4 linked regions of the Homo sapiens genome follow. The protein of the gene in region 1 purifies or fractionates together with the protein of each later gene. This does not show direct contact. Each region holds a gene or a part of one and is shown on either strand. Other genes may lie near its edges. The genes, in order: INSYN2A, SECISBP2L, MTR and LRBA.

Region 1 (8,225 bases):
CCATGAAAGGAAAAGAAAGCCAGAGGAGTGGCATGGCCCTGGAACATGGACCAGCACCTCAGAAACAGCTCTGGTTCCCACCAGAAGGAAACACGGCTCGGCTGCCAGGACCGTGCAAGAGCCACGGGCAAGGGGCTTTACACAAAGCGAGAGTCTTAAACCAGAAATAAGCCCAGAAAGAGGAGAGTGAAGGCTCGAGCAGAATATGACAAGGGGAATGATGCAGAAAGCCTTCCTGCAGGGCTTCTCGGCAGAAAAGGAGGCCCCACTGGGGCACCTTGAGGATTGTGTCTGTCTTGTTCTTGAAAGACAAGGCTAAAGTGTCCCCAAGGGAATGATCTCGACCCTACAGGTCGAAGGCGATATGAGTTACTTTTCCCTCGTAGGCGTTGAGCACTGGCTGATCTGCTACCACAGCTTCTGAACTGACGGGTGTAACCTGCCCATCACAGACTTAGGTTGGGCTCATCTATGAGTCTCTTTGGAATATGCAGATGTCAGAGGCATCCGAACCACAGCGACTCCATTTTGAGTGAGGACTAGAGAAATGAGGCTGAGACTTACTGGGCTGCATTCTTAGAAAGTTAGGCATTCCTCACCTCTAGATGTTTAAGGTTAAGGGAACACACTGGTGATGTTTACTAAACAGACCCAGACTTGGGAGTGTCCTAATATCCAGACATCCTGAGAACAAAGGCGTTCCTAATTTTACTTTAAAGATAATAATATCGGGCGCAGTGGCTCACGCCTGTAATCTTAGCACTTTGGGAGGCTGAGATGGGTGGATTGCCTGAGCTGAGGAGTTGGAGACCAGCCTGGGCAACATGGTGAAACCTCATTTCTACTAAAATACAAAAAATCAGCCAGGCGTGGTTACAGGTTACTCAGGAGGCTGAGGCACGAGAATTGCTTGAACATGGGAGATGGAGGTTGCAGTAAACTGACATCACGCCACTCTAGCCTGGGCAACAAAACGAAACTCTGTCTCCAAAACAAAAACAAAAACAAAAACGAAAACAGATAATATCGATTCTTGCAAAATATAATAATTAAGAAATTTAATCCTTTATCACAAACCCTCGTAGCAGAGCAGAGCTCCCCATATATATGAGTATTGTACCTAGGCTGGACGCATTCCTCCTCTTACTTTTGGGAATGTCCCACTCTGTCTATGGAGTAGCTGTTCTTTCACTACTTTATTCTCTTAATAAACTTGTTTTCACTTTGCACAGTGGACTCGCCCTGTGTTCTTTCTTGTGTGAGATCCGGGAACCCTCTCTTGGGATCTGGATCGGGACCGCTTTTGTGTAACAAAGACATGGGAAAGAAAAATTCACGTCCATAGCGAGCTCTGTCACAGCGACATCGGACAGTTGGGAGGGCAGGCGTTTCATCGGCAGTCTCCTAAAGAAGGAAGTTCTGCTGTGTAGCTAAACTGGAAGGCTCCTCTTCTGCAGTTGCTAGTTTGGAGACACTTTTCTCTTCTCCTGCCTTGCACACTGGAGAGGATACAGGTTAATCACACTGACAGATACACTGGTTCACTGAGGGGTAAGGGTTATTGGGGAGCATGCATGTGGACATTGCAATGACACAGTGATGATGCTCAGACAAATGAGGTCACACTGAGACAGGAAGCATCTCCATGAATTTCTATATAGGTGGAAAACTGCATAAGCAACTAGTGCAGGAGACAGAATGATCCAGCACCAGTGAAGTTGCTGTGGTCCCGGGCAACGAGTATGCCTCAAAGGTAATCCCCATTCTGATATTTTCCACCATTGATAACTTTGTCGCATTCTTGGACTTCATCTAAAGGGAATCATGTCATAAACACTGGGCGTCTGGCTTCCTTTGTTCTGCACCTTTGTAGAAGCCCTCCATGCCAAAGCATGCATCAGCAGTTAGTGCTTTTGGGTTGCTGTCTAGTATTCCACTATACGAAGAACCAAGAAATCTTTATCTACTGTTGACTGGTATTTGGATTATTTCCCGTTTGGAACAGATATAGATAAACCTGTTATGAACATTCTTGAACATGTTTGACTTGTATATTCTTGACTTTTTAATGTGGAAATTGAGACCTCAAACTCACTATACCATAGGGGTGGAATTCCAGCAATTCTCTGTACAACCCCTGCACAATTCCAAGAAGAAGGCAAAAGAAGAGAGACGTGGATATTTTGCTTAGTTAGCCGTCTTGAACTTTCCCTTATTTTTATTCCTCTGCTTTTAGGAAATCCCACTTGAAAAGTAGCTATTTTCTCCTTTGCAAGTCTATCTTTTTCAACAAAAATCTTAAGCAAAATATAAAAAGCCAATACCAATTGATTCCTAAAATGAATCTATCAAGTTTCACTTTTTTTTTTTCCTGAGGAAGCCGAGCATATTGACTCATTCTAGACCCTAAAAATATGCCTACATCCCATCTATTAAAAAAAAATGCAAGAGGGATCTGTGGGCAGGAAGATGGCTGAAACTCCCTTCTCTCCAGCCAGCCCCCAGCATGATGCTTGCTTTAAAGCCTGGAGCATGATGACACACACCTCACCCATGTGGAATATCTCTCCAGAGCCAAAGGTAAGGTGAGGCAAGTTTTCACCAATATTTTGATTTGTGATGCTGAAGACATGCACTTAAGCACTACAATATGTAAATGGTTTCCTACTTCAAAAAAAAAAAAAAGAAGCGATGCCAATGATTTTAATAGACTTAGCAAAACAACTGTAAGTCTACTACACAATTGAACAACTCTAAGCAGTCCTGATGATGCTACAGAATTCCGTTATACTCTCCTCTTCATGTAAGTGGATTTTCTAACCTGCCAATTACGGCTTTCCATTTTCTTCCTGGAGTTATACATCATGCGAATCTCAGATAGCACTGTCCTTGGAGCTGTTTTCTTGCCAGTTCACAGTGCCACCTGTGGCTGAGCACTGCCTTGCTGGGCATGCATTTATGTTGACCTGTTTTCACTCTTGGTCCCGGAAAACTTCAGCCTTCTGATACTACCAGCCCAATGCCCAAGTTTCCTGGCAGCTTTATTTACAGTCACTTTAAAAGACGGAAGGCAGATTTCAATTTTATGGATTGCCAATAAAGTAAGATTTACAGAAGTTCCCCAGACCACTGGGAAAATTACTGGAGCCCACAGCTGCAACAGCACATCCCCAAGGGAACATGCTGGAGAGTGGCAACTTCTCCTATCTGGTTTTAAACGTCCCCAACTCCTATACATTCCCTTCCCAGGCCCCTTCCAGGCAGAAGAGGGGACTGCAGTTTCCATACTGCTCACACAAAATTAAGCATCTCTTTCCAGCCAGCTCCCAACAGCCTCCCTGGTAAGCTGGAAAATCAGCTTGGGGGATCTGAGTTAAGAAGAACAACAAGAAGAGTGAGGTGGGCAGAGTTTGGATCCACAGGCTCAGGACTCCCGTCCTGGGCATATCTGGATCCCCAAGGCTGGCAAAATTGTATACCAAAGGATGCTGCGGGGTAAAGAGGGAAATAGATGACATTTTAGATTTTTTTTTCTTCTGAAATGTCTGGACACACTGCCCAAAGCATCCACATACAAAGAAGGTATTTCGTATAAAGTCATTTATAAAAAACAGACACTCTATAAGGCAGTGATAGGCTCAGTTCAGCTCAGCGAACAAGGATGGAGCTATGGCTTGGTCACAGGCACAGAGCTGGTGCTAGGTGCAGAGACTCAGGGATGTATAGGCAAAGAGGTCTCACTGCCCACTGATGTGTCTGGAGAGGTGGGTGGGTGAAGGGACTTTCCATTTGTCCTCCCAATTTCCTCTCCGAAGCCTGTCCCTTCCCTGGGGTCCACTACTTCTCTGACCTTTCCTGAGAAACAGACTAATAAATGTGGCTACTTACATTTTACATTACATTCTAGGAGCAAATCCAGGGGGCCAGGAGCCCTGCACTCGGCTGGCTGCTTAGTCCCTGGCCCAGACCCCAGGGCCTGACAGGCATCAGAGGGGCCCCTGGGTCTGCTGCTCTGAGCTCAAAACACCCAATACTCTTTGGTGGGTGGGAAATTAAGGGCGGGGATAGCTCCGTGTGCATCCTAGGTCTTTTCCTCTCCCAAGAGAATTCTACTCTGCCACAAAGGAACTCAGCCTCTGCGCCCTGTGGCTTCTGCTGACGGGTGGTGTGTGCTCTGGATGGGGGGTAGGGTTCCTGGCTAGGAGTGGCAGTGGCGCCTGCTCTGGAGTGTCCCTAAATGTCAGCATGCAACATTACCAGGCAGGCCCTCCCACTTCAGTCCTCAGGCCACTCATAGGACCTCCTGTCCCCATGTAGAGAGGCTGACACCAGGTTGGAGCCAGCACTGAAAGGATCCCCGAACTCCTGCTTCTACAAGGCAGCATCCGCAGGTGAGCGGCCAGGCACCTACAAGACACGCACCCTTCAAGCCTGGCTTCCCAAAGCCCCGCCGGGCCAGGCTGGCTGGCACAGCAGACAGTCATGCAGCAGGGTCCCCAGCGACCCCCCATCCCTGAGAGAACACACGGAGTCCCCCGCCCGCCAGCTGCTCCGGAGGCGGCTCCAGGGTAGACTCAACAAGTTCCCGGGCCATGCAGCGCCGCCTGCAGCCCAGAAACCCGGAGGACGCGCTGTGGCGGAGCCCCGCGCGCAGGCGGCAGCCGGCGGCAGCCGGCGGCAGCTCCTTCCACCTCCTCCTCCTCTTCCTCCTCCTCCTCCAGCTCTGGCGGCGGCGGGAGGGGGCTCCTCCACTCCCTCCCTATCCCCCACCCCACGCACGCGGCCCGGCCCGGCCCGGCCCCGCGCCGCCCCCGCCCCACCTCCGCCCCGCGGGGCCCGGGGCTCCGCCCGCCTCGGTGCCAGCCGGGCGCACAGGCGGCAGGCGCGCGGCTTGGGGCGCCCTCGCCTCTGGCCGCCCGGCTCCGCGGAGTAGCTGGGACCTGGAGCAGCGGAAAGGACTTCCCTCCTGCTCCCTCCTCTGCCCCGCCCCCGCCTCCTGGCCCTGGCTCTGAGATCTCGCCGAAGACAATTGCAGTAAATGAGGACATCGGAGGAGCGCGAAGCCGGGTGGCTGTGGCTGGCTCCGCCGCGTCGCGAGCAAGCGAGCGCGCGGGCGTCCCCGGAGCTGGCCCAGCCGCTGCCTCCCCGCGCGCGTCGCTAAGCGGGGCCGGAGGGACGCGAGCGACGCGAGCTGCGGCGCGGGGGCCGGCCGGGCCAGCAGGGCCGGGCCGGCAGCGGTGGAGGGGGCGGGCAGCAGGCGCGCAGCGGGCCAAGTCCCCGGAGCCGAGGCTTCCTCCGCGTGAGCGCGGCGAGTCTGGCCGCGGATGCCCTGTCCGGAGTGCTCCGTGCCGCCCCAGGCTTGCCAGGGTCCGCAGCGAGACATGCCCGAGCCAGGCGCTGCATCGACCTCGACTTATCTGTAAGCAGCGGAAGGTAAGCGGAGCCCCGCGTGCCCTCCTCCCGCGCCCCCGCGCCCGTCGTACTTGGCCGCGGGCAGAGCACCGCTGGGACGGGCGCCGACCCCGATTCGGGCGCACACACTCGGCCCCAAACCGGCTTGGCCGGAAACTCGGCGGCTCCCGGGGCCGGGACACCCCGGTGCAGCCGGGAGCGGACCCGGTGCGGTCGCAGGTGGGGGGCAAGGTTATGCAACTGCATCTGGCGCGACCGGGTCGCTGAGGGGCGTCTGGCAACTTTGGCGACGTCAGGGAGGAGCGGGGCTGCGCCTCTGCGATGTGGGTTCCAGACAGACGCCACAGCTTCGTGAGCGCCCGACAGCCCTAGCCAGGCAAAACTGGGAGATCTGGGGGCGGCCGTCTCCCCGGAAGGTTTCGAGGCTTTTAAGTATTTTCCAAACTAAAGCGCCCTGGAAAGTACAAGTACGGCTGATTAACTTCGGGGGGGGGATGAGTTGGAACAGAGGGGCCCTGACGCCGGCCGTTGAGGAGAGGCGCGAGCAGCAGTGAAGGCAGATGCCCACGTGAAATGCTCGTCTCCTCCACTCGCTGGGGTTGGCACCTTCCCGGGGCTGCGGGTTGGGGTCGGCGCCGCGGGGCTTCCCGGTGCCTGGCAGCCCGAGTCAGACCGGGACAGGCGTGGGAAACCAACCAACGCTGCAGACCTAAGAGACTGCGAGCTGGCGGGCGAGGGCAGGAGGGAGGAGGGAGCCCGCGGGCAGCCCGGGGTCGGGGCAGCTCCTGGAGCCCAAAGTCAAGAGCGAGAGTCTGCATCTTGCTGGTTCATGCTCAGGGCTCCAGGCTGATGTCCCCACTGCTTGGATAAAGAGCCGCTCCCTGTGACCTCAGCATTCTACTACCCAAAAATATGCCACAGGGAGAGGGAGCCAGTGATAAAGAGATGCCAGGAGTGGGGGAGGAGAGGTGCCTCTGGAGTAAATAGGAGAGAAAATGGGTGCGTTTTGCTTATCTACAGCCCAGGGCTCCCGCCCGGACCCCTCTCCTGCTGTTGGTCTGTGCTGGGGAGCTGCACGCGCTCTGGGCCCCTGCGCCAGAAGCAGCGGTGAAGCGGTTTACTTTGACCTTGTCTGCTTAGGCGCTGAAATTCTGCGGAAGCATCCCGAGGTGAAACTGCAAGAGTGGGAATGAACTTTGGGGGAGCCCTGCCTTGGCTGGGAAGCCAAACGATCATTTCAGAAGACTACAGCTCAGGATAGCACAGGGTAGACGTCTGTGCACTTGAACGCTCCCCCCTCAACGAGGACTTGCTAGAGGGTTACCTTTCCATGCCTTATCTCAGTGGGGGGACTGTCAGAGTGACTGCGCTGGCTGGGTACTTGATGAAAAAATACCACTCACAAGACCCGGGCCATTCCCAGAGTAGTACATACATGAAAATGATATAACCCTTATTAAGCTTACGCTACAGCAAGTTACCGTCATTTCACTATGCAGAGGCGGAAAGTGCTGGTTTTTACTATTCCCCCACACTGTACTATTTCTTACATTCATATCCTGTTGAATGTTACTTTTGAAAGTTCATATTTATCTTTGCAATTTTTTTGCAAGAATGATTAGCAAACATGCACAAGGAGCTCAAAGAAAAAATGGAAGTCCTGCCATCTGCATGCCTCACCAGATATTAATCATTTACTATCCATGTTTACTACTTACATTAGATGGCACTGCTCCTCACGATGGTTTTATTAGAGGCGCATTTGGTTAAGGAAAAGAAAAAGTCTAGCACAGCTATCACTAATTGCATGATTTTGCATAAATTACATTAGCCATGGAGAGTTTTGTTTTCTTCACTAAATTCATCATTTTGTTTAAAAGACTAAACAATTCAGTTTAATTTCTTTAGCTAAATGAAAGACTTTTCCTTAAAGACAAGATGTCCTTGAAAAGCTACATATGTCTTTAAACTTATTACAGTTGCCACGACTTTGTATTTTATCATTGTGATTAAGACTTTGAGCTTTCATGTAAGTCAGGCCCTTTATCCTATTAAGAAACAGAATTACTGGTTAAGAAATAGGCTAACAAGGCAAAAGCTGGGAAGCTCCATGTCTGCACAATGAGATTTCTGCAAGCTCTATGGGAGGCTGGGTACTCTATTACTCTGTTTACTTCGGGGGCTTCTCTGTTTTGCCACAGTTGTTTTCCCCTGTGGCAGGAAAGGGAATTTTTGTGTTTTGTTTCTCCCTCTGTAGGGAAAAATTTTTAAATAAATCAATAAATAAGAGAAAGACTTGTACGTGAAAGGCATTCATCTACAAGGAAGACTCCTACACACTGAAATAAGCAGTCCAAAAATCAAAATGATTCTCAGAAATAACAACGGATCGCAGTGGAGTGGCAGGACAGACCCGTTCACGTAGACATTTGTATTCTCTTGTTTGCGCCCAGCCATGGCTATCTCATTTAGAGACAACTACTGAACTCTGGAATATGAGAAGCAGGTGACTTATGCTTCTCAGAGACTCATGATACAGAAATGATCACAGCTACCTCCCAAAGCAGCAGCTCTGTGGTCAGATATTTACGTAGGAGGGCAGTGACAGGTTCACCACGGATTTTAACGCTTGTGAAGGATGCTGTTCAACGCGTCCATAGCATCCAAGAAGCTCAGTTGGGAAGGCAGGCAAATTCTACATACTTGAGGCAAACCACCGTCATTCTGGGAGTGTGAGGTCATAAAAACTCCCCAGATAAAACCAGTGTCATCGTCATTTTCAACAGTCTTTCATAAATGTGAAGCACCACAAC
Region 2 (7,093 bases), on another chromosome or scaffold:
TAGTGAAATGCCGCATCTCAAAGGCAAGCCATAAGAGAAACCTGTAAAGCTGTGGGTTTGGACAGATGACAGAGTAACAAATGATATGGGCACATATAAACACAAGTAGTATAAAACGAAAGTCTCAGAGATTGAGGTGATGTTTTCAGAAAGCACCAGATTCAAAGTGTTCAAAGATTGAAGCCTTGGTTTTTCTATACTCTGCCTAAAGGTTTTAGGTGTAATCAGTTAATCTCGGGGTCTTGGATTTCTCCTTAGAAAAAAAAACTGTTGAAATGTTAATGTGCATCTAAAATTTTTAAACATTTTGTGCCTTTAAAATTTTTTTTCATAATTAAATATATGTGGGAAAATTTTCACTTACTAGACTGTTTTTTTTTTTTTTTTTCCCCAGCACTTACTATATACCAGTCATAGGGACACAGAGATGAGCTGGAGTGGAAGTGAGGAGGGATGAGGAAGGTGAAACAGCAAACACAAAACAAGGCTTTTGACTGTATATGTAAAAAGTACTGTGGGAGTTCAGGTTAGCGATTGCCTGTCAGGAGTTAGGAAAAACTTCATGAAGGAACTAACATTTAAGAGTGGTTATCAAGATGAATAGGAGTCTGAAGGGGAAAGGAGGAAAACACATCTGCAGAAAGAGTACAGCTGATGTTCCAACTTTAGGGAACAGTGAGAATTTAGATGACACTGAGCATGGAGTGTGTGGCCTATGGCGCAGGGTCAGAAGGCAGTAGGACCAGAATGATAGATAAGGGCCAGATCATGAAGGGCTTTGCTGTGCCACGCCAGGGATTTTGGATTCTATCCTAGGGTGATAAAAAGCCAGTTAGACAATGATATAATCAGTTCACAAAACCGGTTACGAAGATGTTACAAATGAACAGCAAGAAAAAGAAGGCCTGAGCTAAGGGAGTAGTAAACAGATTTAGTAGTTTTTGAGCTACAGGTGTCATGGTATAGTGATGAATTCAGTGGACTAAAGGGATATAATACTAATAAGAGAGAAAAGTAGGATCAAGTGTTACTATAAGGTGTCTTCTGCTTTGAGATTGTGTAAATGATAATGTCATTAGCTGAGAATGAGAATATAGGAGGAGGTGATTTTTTTTTTTTCATAAGGTAGAAATGACAGTGGAAAGGACTCATTCTACACTAAAGTAGCTTCAGGAAAGAAATTTTTTCCCAAACAATGTATCCTGACTTGAAGTGCCCAAAACATGTTCTATATCAATATATAGGCCATAGATGGTGACCATATTGAACATACTAATGTGAATAGGTTTGCTACAACTTGATAAGAATATTATACCTATAAACTGCAAATAGTAGCTGTAATGTCAATATGATAGAATTTTTATTTTTTAAAAAAATTTGAAAAAATACAGGGGTGAGAGATCTTTACTGATTCTTGGTACTTTTTTTGCCTTCAACTGATTTCCTATCATGAGAAATAATTTAGTTTGTCATCACTGTAGTATATAATACTTTTTTTGTCCTCCAAAATCACTTTGTAAGCCAAGCTATATATATATATATATTATAAAACAACCTTTCACAGATGTTAGAAATGCATGGATGGATTCTTTGCTTATAATTGGAAACACATGTCCCATTACAGGCCAAAAGATAATTTAAATAACTTGCTGAGTGAGCATGGTACAAACACATGAATCAGAACTATTATTGCTGGACATCTTGGCTCTTCTATCTCTTGGGTTGTGGGTCCTTGAGCCCATTACACCTCTAGGCTACCAAAAAGTTAGGCAGTTTATTGATTTTCATGAATATATGGATTTTATTTGTGAATGCCAGTGAGCTCCTATTGGTATAAGATCTCTTGCATTCTGAAGCGTTAATATACTTATTTTTACCTCCCTGTTTCTTTATCTTGAATGTACATTTTTGGGAATTATTTTCCCTTTATAACATTTAAATTAGGTTGGGCACAGTGGCTCACACCTGTAATCCCAGCATTTTGGGAGCCCAAGATAGGAGGATAGATTGAGCCCAGGAGGTCAAGGCTGCAGTGAGCCAAGATCATGTTGCTGCATTCCAGCCTAAAAGAGCAAGACCCCATCTGAAACACACACACACACACACACACACACACACACACACACACACTCTCTCTCTGTCTCAAACTAGTACTAAATAAACTAAATTTGTAGTTTTTCCAGTCAGTTTCTAAGCCAACAAATTTATATATTTTGTTGTTCTTTCTTTTTTGGGGGTTTTTAAAGAGTTGCATGATTTTGAAACAGTGTTCTGGTTTTTAAAAAATCTGCTTGATACTTGTAGAAACAAATTGGAGAAACATGGTGGAAACTTCAGATGGACTGGAAGCATCAGAAAATGAGAAAGAGGTATCCTGTAAGCACAGCACTTCTGAAAAACCCAGTAAACTTCCATTTGACACACCCCCAATTGGTAAGCAGCCATCATTAGTGGCTACAGGCAGTACTACCTCAGCTACAAGTGCTGGGAAATCCACAGCAAGTGATAAAGAGGAAGTGAAGCCAGATGACCTGGAATGGGCCTCACAGCAGAGTACAGAGACTGGCTCTTTGGATGGCAGTTGCCGAGATCTTTTGAATTCCTCCATCACCAGCACCACCAGCACTCTTGTACCTGGCATGCTTGAAGAAGAAGAAGATGAAGATGAGGAGGAGGAGGAAGATTATACTCATGAACCCATATCTGTAGAAGTGCAGCTCAATAGTAGAATTGAGTCTTGGGTCTCAGAGACCCAGAGAACTATGGAAACCCTTCAGCTTGGAAAAACCCTTAATGGTTCTGAGGAAGACAATGTAGAGCAAAGTGGAGAAGAGGAAGCAGAGGCGCCTGAGGTGCTGGAGCCAGGGATGGACAGTGAGGCATGGACTGCTGACCAGCAGGCCAGTCCTGGGCAGCAGAAGTCCAGCAACTGCAGCTCGCTCAACAAAGAGCACTCTGATTCTAATTACACAACGCAAACTACGTAACTCAGGAAATGTCGGCTCTCTATCTCCAGCTGTGGAAGGGTTGCAGCCATTACCTTTTATGCTTCATCTCAACATTTTGCACTGTCCAGTATTTAATATACGTATTTAATTCCCAACAAATATTTTTGTAGCTTTTACTTGTTATGATCTGTAGCTTAGCTTTTAATTAGTATCTAAGTGTCTTTCTAAGAACTGTGTGGAAAATTCAGATCTGTTTCAGCTTATTTTGTAATCAAAAACAGTGATAAAAAGAAGACCAGATCTTAAAGAAAATAAATTTCAAATGCTTACTTAAAAGACATTTTGAAAGTTAAAGAACAAGGTTCTAAGGATAGAAGCAGTTATCAGTGTTTGCTTCAGGACTCCACCTCCTCTACTCTAATTTGACCAAAAAATTGTTTGGGCTTCTTTAAAAAAGAACTGGGGGTGGAGTCAGAAAATTAAATGAAAGGCTGAGGGTAACTAAGTCCACCAGTGTTGTATGTTAAAAAATCAATGCAACTTTTATGTGGTCCACAAATGTTTAGTCAGAAGTCACTGATTATTGTAATTAATTAGTGTTGGGATGGGCTAAAACAGAGCCTTCAAAACTTCGGCTAGCAGTGGAGCCACCATCTTAGATTATAGCTAGCTAGCCTCATTTGTGGAAAGTGATAGATGCTGTCTATAATAGTGAACAGTCACCCATGATAGGACCTCCAGGTTCTGTCTCATATTTGCTTCTTACTTACCTCAGGAATGCTCTTGTACATAGACTTATTTACAAAAAGCTAGGCACATGTTGACAGGTGAATAACTGTAACCGATTGTATGACTGCTGCACTTACATGTAAACTCTTCAGAAACAGAGTCTTATACTGGTGTGTTCTCTTGCATGCTTCTGGTTCAGGACTCTTGATTTGAGATATGGATTTGATTGAGTATCCAAACTTGTCCTGAGTGCAAAACTGTTTCACCTTTTAAAAAATACCTATTTTGCACCTAGCCTTGAGCACCTTCCACATAGCAATGACCATAGTTACTGTCAGGAGGTCAAGGAAAGGAACTTTGCACAACTTGTGACATGTATCCTGATAATCAAGGCTTAGAGGAGGAAGTTTTAGAAGATAAGAGAAAGTTGTTCTAATTGTGCTGAAACTATTAGATGATTTAGAGTATACAGATATGTAGGTATTAATTCTCTATTCACTATTATTTATCTCTGCCCTTCTCTAGGAGTTTGTATACCTGCTTAGGAGACAATAAATGAGCTAAATGTTTTATTTGCTAGTCAGTCACCACCTGGACTTCAGTGACTTTACAAGTTTATGTAATGGTGGAAGAATGACAAACTATGTAATTTTTTTGTCTTCCATCCAACTCCCCACCACCCCCAACTGTCCCCCCCACCCCCCTCACACACATGCACACATCCGTACGTGTGTGTGTTTTCCACTTACAAGCTTCCATAAGCAGGCACAAAACTGAGAAGGAAGGGGTATTATCCCTGCCCTGATTATCTGGGGCAGGGCTTTGCCTCACAGAGGCAGGAGAGAAGAATTGGGCAGATTCTTTACTGAACTCATTGGGACTACTGTGCTAGTTTTGATGTTTTATAATGCTGGCATTTAATTACTGGAGAGATTGGATTCTTGGTTGATGATTTAGTATTTGTGAATTGTGAAAGTTCAGGAGCTGTGTAGAAAATGTTAGTCAATCAACTTTATTATTGTGCTAAAAGGGGACATTCTTATACTGTCCTGTCTAAACTGTTCTCCAGTATAGACTTCCTAGGCACTAAATATCCAATATTTAAAGGAACACAGCAGGTAAGGAATGAAGCCTCTGAAATAGTACTCATGGATTTATACATGGCAGATCTTACTGTCTCTACACATTTGGAAGTGTTCGTTGGTTTAAAGAAATGATAGAGGTTTTGAACTACTGACAGTCTTAAAAGTGAATTTAAAAACTGTTCATACTTTTTATGGTGTAAATTTCCTTTGCTCGATGTCAGTGATTCAGATAACTCTTGACCTTGAGATGATGGCTTTTCACAGGTTTCTTATATTTTATATCTCTTCTGAACATGAATTGTCATTTTAGATTTTTGACATTTGTATCAAAAGAGAAGTTGAGGAAATCTTCAGAACACTGGTAACTTTTAGTTTTGCTATAGACTTCAGAAGTGTTTATTTATATGTTCGGTAAATGCTCTCGCATATGCAGTACCTCTTCTGCCAGCAAATCCAAGGGACCATAGCCTTTTTATGAGACAGGTCACCTCTAGAGGACAACCCAAGAATTATTAAAGGAAATGTTACCATTTTGAGAGCATGCTTAAATAAATATTAATAATGTCTTTATAACTTGTTTCCTTTAAATTTTGGAATATTGAATTACAGGCTTTGGAGGAGTTGTGAAAATTAGGAAAGTTTTTATATATTTTTTGAAGTGGGCATGGTTGGCTCTTTGAAGACCTATAAAGAGATCCAGTGGGAAGAGTAAGGGTTGGTTCATCATCACAAGAAATAAAAAACATAGTGATTTTTTCTCTTAATGTGTAGAGGTGGTTTTACTGGCAATAATTAATAATAGATTTCTATTTCAGTATGTAAGCATATTAACTAAAATATGAATTACACTTCCAAAGTTAGATTTCTGCTTCAGTAGGTTTGTTTGCTGTGAAGATTACTTCTCAAAAGACAGATGTTCATATTAGCTTAATTTTCGGTTTAAATATGTTTGTAAATGATGTAATATATTTCTTTTGACTAAATGTGGAAAAGTAATGTGTGTTATACATTGAGAAGTTTTTACTGGCTTTGACTGGAGGTTGTTTTTGCAGAGATGGTATTTTATATGATTCCAGTATTTGGAAAAGAATTAGTCAAAAGGAATTCACATAGTTTAAATACTGAGAAATTAATATCCAAATATGTACTTGTCTGATTTCTAAATAAGCTGGGGGAGGAGGGAGGGGTGGGAATTGAAATGTGCAAATGAGTAGTGAATGCTACACTCATTTTCAACTCTTTAACATGAAACTGTTCAATCTTAACACATTGTTACTTTAATATATGTATAAAGAAGTATTACTGTTTGTAAAGCTGCTGTTTGCTTAAAAAAAAAAAACACCCTTGTCATGTATTTTCTGTATGTTGGGCCAACAGGTTAGAACATCAACTCATTTAAAAATTTTTATCTTTTTTTGATTTAAAAAAATTCTGTGAAATAATTTATTTACAGACATCTTCCTCCTCCCTCATCCCTTCCAACCTTTACATACATCACAGAATCAACCAAACTGTTTGCCTAATCTGAAATCTGAATCCTAATGAGAAAAATTTAAATTTTGTTGGCACATCACACCTTGAAAGTATTTGTATTATTTTATAATTTAATTTCTAAATATACCACATAAGTTTATAATTTAATGTCTTAATTGTAATGCTCTAATAAAAAACTAGCAAAATTAGTGTGAGTTATAACATGAAGGGATTTTCATCTTTTGCTGTATGAAGGATAATTGTTATATCACATTTGGGGGGTAATAACAGCTTTTTTGCACTATGTAAATACTAGTGGGGATTCTTCTGTACTAATAAAATGATTATTGAAATGAAATCTGTCCTTTCAGAAGAGATACTTCAAGAGTTCATGACTCCCCACAAGTAGAAGACAGAAAAAAGAGTCCAGCTTGAGTATTGATTGGTGGTCATATGGAGTTGCCAAAAAAGGCTGTAAAATCGTCACGAAGGAGTTAAGAATAAAAATCTCCATCTGGGATGGTTGGTGTGATCTGCGGCATGGGCCCAGGCGTTTAGCCAGAGACCATCCTGGTTATTAGGAGAAGGCTTCTATAGATTCCTTCACCTTTTTATATTAGTTCCTCTGTGCTGGGCACTGTTCTAAGTCTTTTCCCAGTATTAACTCAATCCTTAAAACAGTCCTGTGAAGTAGATTTTGGTTACTATTTCTCACTTTTCAGATGATGGAAGAGTCATGGAGATGTTAACCCAGCCCCATACCAAAGCCCATGCCCCAATCACTGTACTTTGTTATGTCTTGGCATAAGGTGCACAGGGTGTGCAAGGCAAACATGCTTCCTTCACCTTCAGGTGTCT
Region 3 (7,784 bases), on another chromosome or scaffold:
CCGAGGCGTGCGGGTCACCTGAGGTCAGGAGTTCGAGACCAGCCTGGCCAACATGGTGAAACCCCATCTGTACTAAAAATACAAAAATTAGCTGGGTTTATAGTGAGCGCCTATAACCCCAGCTACTCAGGAGGCTGAGGCAGGAGAATCGCTTGAACCCTGGAGGCTGAGGTTGCAGTGAGCCGAGATCATGCCACTGCACTCCATCCTGGGTGAGAGAGTGAGACTTAGTCTCCAAAAAAAAACAAAACAAAACAAAACAAAACCAAAAAAACAAAGTGTAGCAAGTCTGTGCAAACTAGAAATTAGAGATCCAAAAATGAAAGAGAGAAGTATCTTGCAAGTGACTTGTAGGGCAGTAGTAAGATTGTTTTTAATAAAGCAAAGAAAGAACAGTGCTGAGAAAGCCTTGGGATCATTTGATTATAATGCAGAAAATAAAAATGTGCTTTTGCTGTATGTGTTCCCCATTTAGCACAGTGGAAAGAGGGGTCCTAAGTAAGTCAGATCTATTTGGGGTCATTTTACCTTCAGAGCAGATGTGTTCTTGACACTGCAATTTATAACTTACATGCACATATTAGGAATTTATTTGTTTAGGCCTTCATCTTGTCATTCTTTAGGCTAGTTCTTAAAGGTGGTACTAGCTGGTCTACCCCCCTCCAAATCTGACTAGGGCTTTAACCACTTATACCTATGTTTATTCTTTGGAACACTTGCTGTGAATCAGAATATTGTTAGCTAGAAAATAAGATGTTAAGGGCACGGAAAAAAACCCCACAAAATATATTGGCTAAATCCACTCAAAACTGGAGAAAATACTGTGTGATCTCTTAGGCTCACTAGCCAAGGATGTTCCTTGGGACTCTCCTCTGCACTGCGGTTATTTACATATATACATTAAACATAAAAATATTTCTGAAATAGTGTTATAACTAGTCAGCTAAGTAAAGGAACTGCAAAACTATATTCTTATATTTACTGTGAAAGATAATCAGAAAGAATCTGCTTTATTTAGAACTTGACTAGTCAGTAGTTAAGTATACAGAATGTTCTAGACCTAATGAACTGAATACAGATAAATACAATTTTGTTGTTCTTCATGGAAGAGTGACATTTCAGTAGATCCCCACTCTGCCAGGGGAAGGAATTGTCAAGGTGACTTATTCTTTTGAGCAAGTTCTGATAGTAATTGGAAACTGGTGAATTAGAATGGTAATTAAAGCCCAGTGAAAAATGACCTCCTACTGGAAAAACTGGAGGAATACAGAAGGCTAAAAATAGTGAACACTTAATACCAACAGATTTTCTGAAGGAAGACTTCTTAGTTTCTCTAAATGGGAAATCTTACATTATCCTCTAAAGGAAAAATAAGCAAGTAGTTGAGGAAACTATGTTTTTTTTTTTCCCCCTTTTTCTTGAGACAGTCTCACTCTGTTGCCCAAGCTGAGGGCAGTGGCGTGATCACGGTTCACTGCAGCCTCGACTTCCCAGGCTCAAGCAGTTTTCTTGCCTCAGCCTTACTAGTAGCTGGGACTACAGGTGCATACTACCAGGCTTGGCTAATTTTTGTTTTTTTTTTTTGTAGAGATGAGGCCACTGTGTTGCCCAGGCTGTTTTCGAACTCGTGGACTCAGTGATCCACCTACTTTGGTCTCCCAAAGTGTTGGGATTACAAGTGTGAACCACCACACCCAGCCCAAGTAATGGATTTTTAAGGGCCTCAGTTGCATAGGAGTTTTTTATTCAGGCTGCAAAATTCCTGTGTTTTATTATATATTCCTTTTTATCTGTATTTTCTATTCACAATTCTCTTGTTTCCATAGACCGCCTTTTTCACATATATCCATATATTTATACATTTTGTTGTAAACTCTAGTCTATAGGTATTTTTAATTCACATTGTATATTACATTCTGGAATGTACAAGGAACTAACACAAATCAATAAGAAAACAAATTAGCTTTAGACATTGAAGAATCTCCCCCAACCCATCGTCTATTATTTTTGTCTATGGTGACTTTCGTTTAACAGAAATCCTTGGTTTTTATGTAATCAAATTCATTGTGTTTTTTTTTTTTAAATTAAGAGGTTGGTCTTTTTGAGTCTTAAGAAGTTCCTTTTCATTCGAAGTCATAAAGTTCTTCCCAATAAATTATACAATAAGTTTGTCAGGTTTCTGAAAAACCAAAGCAGATGTTTTTAAACAGCTTTTGATCTCTTGCCTATACGGTGGCTCAACAAACAAGATGCCAGAATTTGCATGTGTGGGGCTGGGTTGTTTTGTGGTAAATAGTGAACTGTCTTAAAGTCCAAAAACAAAGCTTATTATTTCTGGATTGAAAAGGGAATACAGTAAGGGCCCCATGGAAAAGTACTAAGACTTTTTATGAAAATGAGGGGTGGAGGCACTCTGAGTGGTTAGATTTGCTCAACTTGTGTGCACTCGCTCAGTGGAGGAGATAGGAAGAAGGACATGTAAATAATAGGATATTGATTGATATTGATTAATCATTTTGCCGATGCCAAAGGACATACTTCACTGTCTGTGGAAAAGATTGCCTTTTTCTCCCTAGGAAGTTTGAATACCTTTTAAATATGAAATTTCATGTGCATGACCTATTTCCCCACTGCCACACCTCATGCTCACACTAGGCTTATGATTCAGTCACCCACTTAAGTTCACGTGATGTCATTTCAGGGAGAATTGCAGCTACATCCTTTTGAGAAGAAAGCGATTCAGCTGGGCATGTAGGTTAGAGTCTTTAGTTCTTAGTCTTCTCATTCCTCCTGTGAAATTATCTACATTTAACAGCTTTCACTGAGTATTTTCTTCTTTCACTCGACTGTTAGAAGACATTTCCCAACCTGCAAATATGCCATTCCTGCCCCAACATGACCAACTGAGAGCTTCAGGCTTTACATGATTTTTCACAGCCCACTGAGCTTTGTAATATATAGAACACAATCTTTAGAGCTTCAGTCCTTGCTGTGCTATAATACCAACATAATAAGAGTAGCTAATATTTATCAGATGTTTACTATACATCAAACACCAATGTCTCATTTCATGACTTGTGTGACTTAAGAGGTCCAGTTCTTAACACATGGTCTCATTTTAGTATCACAGTTCTGATGATGAAGGCAGGGCTGATGTTTCCTCATCTTGCTGAAGCATGGAGAGGACTTGTCTAAAATCCCATAGCTACTAAGGGGAGCTGGGGCTAAAACCCAGATTTCTTGGGTTTTCACACCCTGCTACTATTAGCTTAAGCCTATCAAATTCTGAGTGCTTATTGGCTGATAGGATAGTCACATCATGGAGTGCCTAAATTAACACTACATGTGAATTTACCGTGTCGACTATAGCTTGAAATGGCGCCCACTGCCTGATGCCTACCAGTCTTTCTATTATACATGCTTCATTAAGCCCTACCTTTTCTCCACATTTCCCAAGAAGTGATTTTCTTTGGTTCTTGAAGTACTTTTGTACAGATCATTGGAGCTTAACTTCGTTCCTTTATCAGGAAGTGTTTTATCTCACCTGCAAGTTCAGTAAACACAATTAGCAAGTGAGGTGGCTTTGGAAAGGAATAGTACACCCTGAAAGAAACATAGTGCCCAGAAACTAGATATTGGATATTGCAAATTTTTCTTTTAGGTTACTAGAGCCACCTTCCTGAAGCCCACTTGGAGAAAGTCACTCAAAATAGTTCTGTGACCACCATTTAGCCCCAGTTCTCATATTGTATACTTGAGACTCTGGACAGTAAGACGAGGCAGGGTTGTAAGTTTGCACCCAATACCAGCTTACAAATATTCTTACATTACTGGTTTGGGTTTTAAATTATCTTTGCCTCTTCTTTCTCATCTTCCCTCACTTTTTTGTCATTTCAATTAAAGAAATATTTGCCAAGTACTGACCTTAGTGTTGCTAGGCATGAGTTCCAAGGAGCTCAGATAGCTTAGAACCAGCCCCATTTGACTTGAGCTTTTCTCGCCTCTTAGCACAGAAGGAATGGGTTGGCGTCATTATGGTTTGTTTTGAGTAACATGTATTCAGTCTGATATGCTATAGGGAGTTGTTGAAGGTGTTTGAGCAGGGGAAGCAACTGGTTTAAAATTGTTGTATAGGAAGATAAATCTGGTAGTGGTGCACAGGATGGATTAGAACACAGGGCGACTGGGTATGGTGGTGATCTCTTACCTTTGTAGGACACTTGATAGTTTACAAGGCACTTCCATAGATGTATGATCTCATTTGCATGGATGCAAACTAGAGCTCAGAGAGGATTGGTGATAGCTGGCCTGTGTAGTAAGGGGTTGAAGAAAGGGGTTGTCACAGGGCGAGGAAGGTGGGACCATTGTGCATGGCATTTTAGAGGCCAAATCTATAAGGCTTGGGATCTAAGTAGATGTTGGTTATCAGGGAGAATAAGGAGTCAGATAATACTGAGATTTTATGGTTAGTCTTCTGGGAAGGGTGTTGCCATTTACAGAAATCAGGAGATGAGACAGAGAATATATGCAAGTTTGGTTTTGAATATTAGATTGAGGGGCAGGTGGGTAGTTGAGGTAGCCATATCCAGTGGACAGTTTAAAAGCTGGGTCTAAGATTGGGGCCAGGTGTTTTTGATATTTAGAAGGTCATTGGTGACTTTAGAAAGTAATTTCAGGAGAGTGGTGGAGGAGGAAGCCATGTCAGAAGGATAAGAAATCGGTGGTTGCTGAGGTGGAACTGTGGGAGTGGGAAGGGCTAGATGAGGGAGCAGTGGGAGGTGTTGGTCATCATGCGCTTTTCCTTAGGTACAGAAAGAAGGGAAATAGAGTGAGCCAGACTGCAAGAGGATTTTGAGGTGGAGAGGGTGTGAGTTTGAGGAGCCTCCAACAGAAAACTTCTTTGTACGGGATTAGGTGAAATCACTTGTGGAGTGAGGAGGAAAAGGATTTGGTGCTAAAAAAAAAAGTAGAAATTGGGACAGTAGATGTTGGAAGTATTGAGGGAGGTCAAGAAAAGGTGAACCAAAGGAGGCTGAACGTTGCAAGTTTTCAGTGACTCCAGTCAGCATAGTTTTGTGGCTTTCCAGTAGGTCGTAGAAACCAGAAAGCAGGATTAGAAGGAGTAAGCATTGGGCCCTTTTCTGGACTGGGAATTAGAAGTCAAGGAGCATGGGGAGAGTTGAGAAGTTCAAGGGTGTTAGCCAGTTATTATTTCATAGTTGGGCAGAGGTGAGTAAAACTCTGTTTGCAGGCCATTATTAGTTCTGGCAATAGGTGAGGGAGAAGGTCAAAGCTAATATTTTAAAGAATAGTTTGGAATTATTGATGGTTTTCAATTATCTCTGCTAAATCATTTTATTTAGGGAGTATCTGCACAGAATTAACAAGGAAAGAGAGCAAAGTCTTGTATCACTGGCCCATTATTGCCTGTTTTCCTCATCTGTAAAACAGGAGTAGTGTAGCCTACCTTCACCTTGGTTTCGTGCTTCACCAGGAATTTTGTGCTGTGTGCAATCTTGTATTAGGCATTGTCACGACTTAATGACCTTTTTGGGCAGCGTTTTCCTATATAGAGTTATGAGTGCATCTTTTATAAACTCCATTTACTCCTTATTGGAGATTATTATAAATTTCTCTAAAGCTCCTCCCTCACACATCTTTTTCACCTTTCATTCTTTGAAGTCAAACTTTCACTTTCTTTAAAGAAGGTCTGAAGAAAACCCTGCGGGATGAGATCAATGCCATTCTGCAGAAGAGGATTATGGTGCTGGATGGAGGGATGGGGACCATGATCCAGCGGGAGAAGCTAAACGAAGAACACTTCCGAGGTCAGGAATTTAAAGATCATGCCAGGCCGCTGAAAGGCAACAATGACATTTTAAGTATAACTCAGCCTGATGTCATTTACCAAATCCATAAGGTAAAGTATTCCCAGGTTCCCATGTGTATTCATTCTGTTATTCTGCAAGCTGTTTCATGTATCAGGGCAGGCTGCTATGCCGAGTGCTCCGGAGAATAAAGAATAAAGAGGCAATTTATTCAGAAAGCAGGTTTTGGACATCAAATAAAAGTTATGTACTGTGTTAAGCACTCAGGATAAGGGAATGAGGTAGGTAGGTTTTCTGCCCTTGAGGCATGTAAACTCTAGTGAAAAACTATGAGAATCTGGACAAATAAGGGTTTTCACACTAGTGAGTGTGAGAAAACTATCTTATTTAAGTTACTGCAACAGCCCTGATGAAGAAATGCTTAAAGGTGGTTGGTATCTTAGCTTTGGCTGCTGTATTACCTGTTACCATAGACTGGGTTATACAAGCACACATTTATTTCTCACAGTTCTGGAAGCTGGAAGTCCACAGTCAAAGTGCCAGCAGATCCTGTGTCTGGTGAGGGCCCTCTTGTTTATAGATAGCTGTCTTTGTATCTACATGACGGAGAGCAGAGAGAGAACAAAAAACTCTCATATTTGTGCTTATAAGGGCACTGCTGTGTTCTCAATGTTTGTGTCCCCATGAGATTCATATGTAAAATCCTAATGCCTAGTGTGATGGTATTAGGAGGTGCCCTTATAAAAGAGGCTCAAGGGCGCTTATTCACCCCTTCCACCATGTGAAGATACAGTGAGAAGATGCTGTCTATGAACTAGAAAGCTGGCGCTCACCCATTATAAAATTCTAAGATACAATTATCATTCATGTATTTTGTATTTTAGTCTAGTTTTCTATACTTGGAGTTTAAAAAATTAAATTGGGATTACATTGCTTCGTACTGTCTTATAATTTGCATTTTTTACTTATATACCATGAGTATTAAATATTCTGGAACATGGTTTTAATAACTTCATAATCTATTCCATGTATATATCATCATTTATTTAACTAATCTCCTTATTCCTAGGCATTAAGTTTATTTTCAGTTTTTCTTGTTCTTTTAAAAAAAACTTAAATTAGTTCTTATAAAACAAATCTCGTAGATAATACATTCCCATTTGACCATACTCTAAATTGCTATTTTTTCCCCAGAGATAACCACTGATATTAGTTGGTGTGTGTCGTCCCAGATTCCTTTGTTAGGCATTTTCATATATGTGTATGTGTGTATACGTGAGTGAATATATATATGTAGAAAACTCATAGTACTCTGTGTATGTTTTTTTAATTTAATGGTGTCATGCTTTACGTATCATTCTATTTTTTTTTTTACTTAACAATACTTTGCAGAATCTTTCCATGTCAGTATTTGTAGATATACACAGTTTTTTTGCTGTCACATGGCATGTAATAAAGTGGATATATTTTAGTTTATTTAGCTGTTTCCCTATGGGTAGATATTTCGGATGTTTGTTATTGTTACTATAAATGTGCGTATCTTGGTTTTTATCTCCCAGTGCTTCTGCAACCATTGTCCATCGACTTAAGAGGGGTTGGGTTTATTCAGTATTGGAAAATCAAGGGGGTCAAGGGATTCCAGGTTGCTAGTCAGATTGAGGTTGAGATGATCCAAGGAGTGGAGCCAGGGAGACGAGTTTCGAAGAGAGCACAAAGGAGCATCAAGATCTTCAGGGTTTCAGTAGGGATGTGATGCTTGTTCAGAGAGACTAGGAGATGTAGACTGAACAATTGTGGTCAGAGGTTGAGATCTCTGAGATGGTATACTTCTCGGTGGGCATCAGGTTCTGCCAAAGCAGGAAGAAGATAAGGGAACAGAACTACCATTTGTTGAGTGCCCATTGTGTGCCAGACATTTGATGCATTATCTTTTTGGTGTTGTTTTTTTGAGACAAG
Region 4 (7,784 bases), on another chromosome or scaffold:
TATGTGAAAGACATATTGTAACTTACTATGTCTCTGAAAACAACTGCCCTAAGCCGATTAATATCCATGTCCTGTAGAAGCCTGTCAAGATCTCTTACTGGAGATATACCGCCAGTCACAATGTCCACTGGGCTCTATTTAAGATTAAAAAAAAATTGTATATATATATATTCATATATACATTACACAGATATTCTTTAAAAATAAACACAGTATTCCCAGAACCAGAAAAGCAAAGCTATAGCATTCCTTTCCCCACTTTTTTTGTGTGTATGCTTCCTTCTTCTTTGAGGGGTTGGGGAGAGAGGTGGAGAAAGATGGCATGCAGGAAAAAATGACATATTTGAAGGAAAAGGCATCACAGAAACAATCAAAGTAAACACTGGGAAAAGCAGAGAGGTTTAAATATAAACAAATCTTTATTGTGTATTTAAACACAAATATTTGAATGTTATATGCAGGCCTAAAGTAACTATTTTAATCTCTGCCAGATTTATTTAACTTTATGTTGAAATGAACAAATAAAAATCTTAATTGTAAAATAGGAGTATGCTTTTTGAAAATTAATTAATCTGTATACTTACCTTCGCTGCAGATTTCCCTAAAGGAATAAGGCTATGCATTGGTTTCAAGGCTTTATCTCCCCTAGTTTTCAGTTGTGAATGCTGTTGACACTCCAAGCAATTCCTTACTGCGACTGCACAAACTGTAATTTATTTTAAGGAAAAGATAGGGAAAGAAAAGTTAATATTTAAGATTATGGAAGTGAAAAACATCAACTACACAATATGATTTACATAAGATTTTATTCAAAACAGACGACATTCAGCTTATTCCTAAAATGTCCCTAGACTTTATCGCCTAGTGTTGGTTGTCTGATATTGTTAGCTTCCATGCTGTGGCCCAGTTAAGATTTAGGGAGGCAGTATGGCCTAGTGGTCTAAACGTTTAGGGTTTGCTGAAAGGAAATCAGTTCAGGAATCTTAACAATAGGCTACTATTTCTTAGATCTCAACTAAGCTAGCTGGGACAATCTTTAGTTAAGAAAAGGATAGGGAAGAAAAGAATTGAAAGAAATGGAAGAAAACAGGGAACAAAGTACATTACCATGAACTAGTCGAGGTAACAATCTTCTATTACCATCATTAAAGTAAATTAGTTAAACTGGAAACTTTGATGTTCTTCTTATATTGCATCATTACAGCATGATATTAATTGAGACTAATAGAGGATATAGCTTTTGAAAGAAGCTTTATAGGGTCCAGCATTTACTAGCTTTCATTAAAACTGCTTAGAAAATGGGAGACAGGAAAGGGAATTTGATTAATATACAGTCTAAAATTACCTAAGGCTCCCACGAATCAGGCAGTTAGATTACTTAGAAATTAATTTTGGATTTTAAATGATGAATTACATTATGTACCCTTCACTATGAATTGCTTGATACCATGTAATCATCTAAATTCCCTCCAAATCTGTAGCACTCAAGGTACTTGAACTGAGCAAAGGAGGGAGAGCAAATTAGGAACAAAATAGCAAACTTAAGGGGGGACTTCACAAAGAATCACTGGCCTATCACATGGCTAGCAGGCATGAGAATTTAGAAAGAAAGTGTTCTGAAAGGTGCCCAAAGAGAGCAATAAAAGTTGAAAGAAAGGAAGGAGGGAACAAGAGGAGGGAAGAGAGAATATGGAATACAGCTTTGTCAAATTTGCTATCAGACCCAAGAAATATTTTACTTTATCAAATTTGCTATCAGACCCAGGAAATACTTTTCATACAAACTTTTTCACAAGTTGCATAAAATCAAATTTGAGTCTGTATTACAAAGTTAAAAATCACACCTCATTTCCTGGTTTCAATCAGTTACTCTTACTGCTGTCATCCTAACTTCTAACTCCAACCTCAGGAAACAAGAATGAGGACACCAGTGTCCATCAACAGATAACTAGATAAAGAAACTGTGGTACATATACGCAATGAAATAATATTCAGCCGTAAAAAAGAAAGAAATCATGTCTTTTGCAGCAATATAGATGGAACTGGAGATCATTATCTTAAGTGAAACAAGTCAGACACAGAGAGACAAATATTGTATGTTCTCACTTATAAGTGGGAGCTAAATAGTGTGTACACATGGAAGTAGAGTGCGTAATGATTGAAAATGGAGACTCAGGCCAGCGGTGGGGGCTCACATCTGTAATCCCAGCACTTTGGGAGGCCGAGGCGGGGGGATCACAAGGTCAGGAGATCGAGACCATGCTGGTCAACATGGTGAAACCCCGTCTCTACTAAAAATGCAAAGAATTAGCCGGGTGTGGTGGGGCACACCTGTAGTCCCAGCTACTCAGGAGGCTGAGATAGGGCAATTGCTTGAACCCGGAAGAAAGAGGTTGCAGTGAGCCCAGATCTTGCCACTGCACTCCAGCCTGGCGACAGAGTAAGGCTCCATCTCCAAAAAAAAAAAAAGAAAGAAAATGGAGACTCAGAACTCAGAAGGATGAGGGGGTGAGGGGGGTCTGATGATGAGAAATTATTTAATGGTACAATGTGTGTTATTCATGTGATGAATACCCTAAAAGCTCTAACTTCACCACTAAGCAATCCATGTATGTAACAAAATTGCACTTGTACCCCATAAATTTACACAAATACAATTTAAAAAAAAGATATCACACATTTGGACTGTTACTTTGTTTACCATACTCTATTAAATGATCTTGGACAAGTCATTTTTTAAGTCCCATTTCCATATATAAGAACAGATGGTACTGGGGTGGATTAAATTATCTCTTAATTCTTTTCCGTGGCTATGAAAAACTAGGAACATAGAGTATTTCCCTAGCCTCTGAATCTGATGATTCTTGAGTAAGGCTTTGCTAGTATAGCCTTGCACTTTTACTTCTAGAAATGTACTCTTTCTAGGAAAGTGAAAAGCCTTCGAAAATGGCACACATAAAGCAATAAAGTCTAAATATTTTAATTATAATACTAATAGATTAAAGAAGTATACTACAATAGAAAGAGTAGGAGCACTAGTTAGACAAAAGTATAGTATTCAAATTCTACCTTCACCAATTATAGCTTTTTAGCTATAGATAAGTTTCCCAATTTCTTTTATCTTCAATTTCCTCATGAATAAAAAGAACAAAATTGTCACCGTGAAAATCAACAATGACAAATGACAATAGTCAATAAATGATAACTTTTATTTTGTTATGCTTACAATTAGAATGTCTCTTAAATTTTAAAACAACTGTCTATAAATTGTTATTCCAAGTTACTTAGAATAGCAAGATATACCATTGATTATTAAATATAAAATACTTGGAATTTTACATTTAAACTAATACTATTAAATACTTTGAATAGCATTTTGAGTAAAAATTATACTTGTGGCAAAAAGCACAGGTATACATTAGTTTATGTAACAGACATTCTTGCTAAATATGAAAAAATATGTCATTAACTACATTTTCCACTTCCATGTTATGTTTTCATAGGTGCTTTATCTCTTCATATGACCATGGCTCCTAATGGTTTGCTTCCATTTCTTGTGCCTTCTCTCCTCACCACCTTCTCTTCACTTAATAATCAAATCATTTAACAAAGTCTCGATATTTACAACTATATAGAAGGAAAATTATGCAAAAAAGGGTTTTTTTGTTTTGTTTTTTGCTTCACCTAAGAAGTCCAGTTAACATTAAAAAGTCATTTCATGTATTTTTACTTTTACTTAGGGAAGAAGTGTTTCCAGGAGAAGAACAGAGATTTCATGATTTTATTAACTGCATTAACAAATTACCACAGCTTTTTTGAATAAAGGCTGTACTTGAATGATGCTAGTTTAGAACGTTGTTATTCCAGTGTGTTTGTAAGAAAAGCAGCATCAACATCACCTGGGACTTGGTAGTCAATTTTAGGCCTTACCCTAGACCTCTATAACCCTTTTTTTTTTTGAGACAGAGTCCCGCTCAATTGCCCAGGCTGCAGTGCAGTGGTGTGATCTTGGCTCACTGCAATCTCCAACTTCCAGGTTCAAGCGATTCTGCTGCCTCAGCCTCCCAAGTAGCTGGGATTATAAGCGTGCACCACCACACCTGGTTAATTTTTGTATTTTTAGTAAAGACGGGGTTTCACCATGTTGGCCAGGCTGGTCTTGAACTCCTGACCTCAGGGGATCCACCCACTTTGGCCTCCCAAAGAGCTGGGATTACAGGTGTGAGCCACCACCCCAGCCTAGACCTATATAATCTAATCTGCATTTTAACAAGATCATCAAATTTATGAATCACCTTGTGTTTTTTAATCACCTTAAGTTTATGTATCTCCTTAAAATTTCAGAAGCACTACTTTAGAGCAAAAAGAGATAGGGGAGCACCTCTAATTCCAGCTACTAGGAAGGATAAGGAGGCGGGATCACTTGAGCCCAGGATTTTGACACCAGCCTTGGCAAGAAAGCAGAACCACCATTTCAGGGAGAAAAAAGAAAAAAAAAAAAAAAAAAGATAGGGGAGAGTGGAAACTCCTGACCAAAATCACCTTAGTAAATTTTTCAAAATACATCCTCCTTCTTGCCCATCCAACTTACCAACTACTACTATGTACATTAAAAAAAGTAACCATATGACAAATTAGCTAACATATATTTTCTCACCAACAGAAGACGGATAATTTTCAATGTCATCTCTGAATTACTGAAAAATTTTTTTTAGTAAATTCCCAACGGTTTTTAGCAGCTCACCTAGTCGGAGACACTGCCGCAAAATTCCTCCAGATGACATACTTTTTTCAGCTTCAATTTCAGTAAAGCCAAGAGAACTTGCAAATATAAGCACATCCACAAGGCTAATTAGCCTCTGCAAAAATGTCACAGAGGCTTCTATTGAAAGGCCTTGAGTAGGTTCAATATTTTCCAGTTCATGCTGTAAAGAATAAAGTTTGACATTTATATATATATATTCTGAAAAAAAAATTTTACCAGATATAGTCCTAAAATTTATAAATTGCATAAGTAGTCAGACTTTCAGAAACCTAGTAACACAGAGTGATTTATACTTATTATTTCATCTAAAAAGGGTGGGGGATGAGGAGGAGCAACAGAACCATACAGGTGAAACATCATGAACCACATTCTTCACTAGCTGACTCATACTTAGGGAATCAACATTCTTTTAAGTTCTTTCATTACTAGAACAGATTCTAAGGTCCTCTCAAGTAAAAGATCCTATTGTTTTTTATTTATAGCACCTACGATGCATAGTAACCACCACATTTAAGTTTTAGTCAATAAAGTTGCATAACACTCATGTTTTCACACCAATTTTCTATAGTAATTAAGTCCTTACTGTAGCCGATGTAGCAGCTGAAAGCAATGGCAGTATACCCCCACAAGCCATGACCATATTGTCCATCACTTGAGAGATGAGATGAATTGTGTTGTGTACAAAGATGACATTATCACTGCTATTCACGAAGTCCATAACTGTCTTTGTTGAATGGCTGTCCAAAGATAAATGATATTTACTGATAAAGCTAAAGAAAGGAAATCACAGTTTGCCTACTTGAGGGGAGGAAAGATAAGAAGGTGCTTTTGCTTCATCTTGAAAACTGAAGGAAGATGATGCAGCAGGCATTTGGAGGGTGTATACTTCTTCAGAAGAAACAGACCATTCCATATCAGTAGTTACTATCCATGCCCTCCTTCAGTGCTGAAACATAAATACTATTCATTTTACACTGGATATAAAAAGTTGAAGAAAATTATCCTTACTGGGAACAAAACTAAGAAATCATGTGACAAAAATTAGGAGGTAAATACTGGTAAATGTGCTATTAAAAATGAATTTTCTTCTGTAATGCCTATAAAATGCTTTTAAACATAACAAGAATCTTACACAAATAAAAAAAAATAAATTAGGTCACTTTAAAATCATAAATCATACAATGGGGGATAACTTGAAGTACACAGATTTTTTTTAATGCTAAAAATACATTGGAAATATTGATAATGTTATAACAATTTTTTTTTTTTTTTTGAGACAGAGTCTCGCTCTGTCGCCCAGGCCGGAGTGCAGTGGCGTGGTCTCAGCTCACTGCAAGCGCCACCTCCCGGGTTCACACCATTCTCCTACCTCAGCCTCCTGAGTAGCTGGGACTACAGACGCCCGCCACCACTCCCAGCTAATTTTTTTGTATTTTTAGTAGAGACAGGGTTTCACCGTGTTAGCCAGGATGGTCTCGACCTCCTGACCTTATGATCCGCCTGCATCGGCCTCCCAAAGTGCTGGGATTACAGGCTTGAGCAACTGCGCCCGGCCTATACCAATTATTTTTTAATACTTCTAGTAATAAACCAACTTGATAAACCTACCTTCTGGTGAATTCCGTGCCATAAAATTGCTACAGGAAATCTACTACAAATTTTTTTAAAAGAGAAACCTCTGCTTTTCACATTTTTGTAATCCAGATAAGGATTCCATTCTTATAATGGAGAATAAAAGTGAATTCAGTAAAACCCTACCATAGAATAATTTCTATTCTACTTTTTAACCAAATGTCTGAAATTAATTACAAACTGTTTCTATGGATTTCTTTGAAAATAAAGACTAGGTTTATACACATCTTCCATAATAAACATATAGACAAACCTTCTCCACATCTGTATATCTGTTTCTATTGAAAATAATAGATCAGTGAGCAAACGTTGATGCATCTGAGACCAGTTGAACTCAGGAATACGAAACACAGTAGATCTGGAATCCCTCCTTTGTCCATTAACTGCATCTGGTGCTATTCCTTGCCCTGGCTGCTCATGTTGCCTTGATATCTAATACAGAAATTTAAAAAGTAATAAAATAGGTTCAACTTCAGCAGGAGGCTTTAGCAAAGTAAATAATTTAGTAGCTTCTATGCAATTCATCTAACACGTTTTTAAGACACTATAAGAACCAAATTAGAGAAAGAAAAATTATCAATGAGTAATAACATTAACATTTTAGTACATGTAAGCAAAGCTATCAAAAGTGCAAAACTACCACAATTTAAAAGTAATTAACTTGGAACCATGTTAAGTATTACCACTATGTAGCATTTTATAAAAGAATCAAGTAACAGTTCTTAGTTTTTAGCCTTAGCCTAAAAGAAAGGCAGTATTTAGAATCTAAGTGGCATTTGGATTATGAAGTGGCTAGAATGAAGAATAAAAACAGAGATAACATAATGAAGAACCAACCAACAAAAACAAAAAAAAGGAGGGTGGGACAGAGGATAAGAATTGAATAAAGTGGAAAATGACAACATGCTACCAAGCACTGTCTCATGGGTCACTCTGAGATATGGACAGAGGAGAAGGCTGTGCCTCTAGATCTCACAAAGCCTCCTCTCTCTTATAGACTTCATAATACAATTTTAAATCACATGCTTAGTAACTAAAATTATACACTGGCAGGTAGGTAGCCCTAGAGTTTGTTGGAAAACTAATGTACTAGGATTGGGTTAGTCAAATAAAAGGTAAAATGCAAGTGTTTCCAATATTTGTTTTATAAACTAAAATTATACCAATCCTTCAAAGTGGTAACTTCTGGTGATACTATGGTAAAAATAGTAATAAAAACTGTCATTTAATGAACTCACATTAACTGCCAAACACTGTGCTAATGATCTGAAATACAATCTTCACATTCATTGCATTTATTTAGTTGTGAATAGCATGTGAACCAAATTCAAAATAAAATAAAATTTAAGTATATACACTTGCTCTTTTTTAACTCAGTGCAAAAGTA

What was found.
Region 2: the proteins of INSYN2A (region 1) and SECISBP2L purify together in Homo sapiens (affinity purification with mass spectrometry; 2 studies listed by BioGRID and IntAct, with this or other methods). This does not show direct contact.
Region 3: the proteins of INSYN2A (region 1) and MTR purify together in Homo sapiens (affinity purification with mass spectrometry; 2 studies listed by BioGRID and IntAct, with this or other methods). This does not show direct contact.
Region 4: the proteins of INSYN2A (region 1) and LRBA purify together in Homo sapiens (affinity purification with mass spectrometry; 2 studies listed by BioGRID and IntAct, with this or other methods). This does not show direct contact.

The regions. Positions count from the first base shown.
Region 1 is NC_000010.11:127,193,205-127,201,429, reverse strand, and holds the start of INSYN2A (inhibitory synaptic factor 2A), read left to right. Parts: upstream 1-4,838; 5' UTR 4,839-5,433; intron 5,434-5,652; exon of another isoform or gene 5,653-5,879; intron 5,880-6,155; exon of another isoform or gene 6,156-8,225. UniProt on the Homo sapiens protein: Component of the protein machinery at the inhibitory synapses, probably acting as a scaffold. Inhibitory synapses dampen neuronal activity through postsynaptic hyperpolarization.
Region 2 is NC_000015.10:48,988,138-48,995,230, reverse strand, and holds the end of SECISBP2L (selenocysteine insertion sequence-binding protein 2-like), read left to right. Parts: intron 1-2,304; coding exon 2,305-2,987; 3' UTR 2,988-6,593; downstream 6,594-7,093. UniProt on the Homo sapiens protein: Binds SECIS (Sec insertion sequence) elements present on selenocysteine (Sec) protein mRNAs, but does not promote Sec incorporation into selenoproteins in vitro.
Region 3 is NC_000001.11:236,797,723-236,805,506, forward strand, and holds part of MTR (methionine synthase), read left to right. Parts: intron 1-5,705; coding exon 5,706-5,920; intron 5,921-7,784. UniProt on the Homo sapiens protein: Catalyzes the transfer of a methyl group from methylcob(III)alamin (MeCbl) to homocysteine, yielding enzyme-bound cob(I)alamin and methionine in the cytosol. MeCbl is an active form of cobalamin (vitamin B12) used as a cofactor for methionine biosynthesis.
Region 4 is NC_000004.12:150,844,074-150,851,857, forward strand, and holds part of LRBA (lipopolysaccharide-responsive and beige-like anchor protein), read right to left. Parts: intron 6,830-7,784; coding exon 6,651-6,829; intron 5,503-6,650; coding exon 5,349-5,502; intron 4,926-5,348; coding exon 4,745-4,925; intron 707-4,744; coding exon 585-706; intron 135-584; coding exon 27-134; intron 1-26. UniProt on the Homo sapiens protein: Involved in coupling signal transduction and vesicle trafficking to enable polarized secretion and/or membrane deposition of immune effector molecules. Involved in phagophore growth during mitophagy by regulating ATG9A trafficking to mitochondria.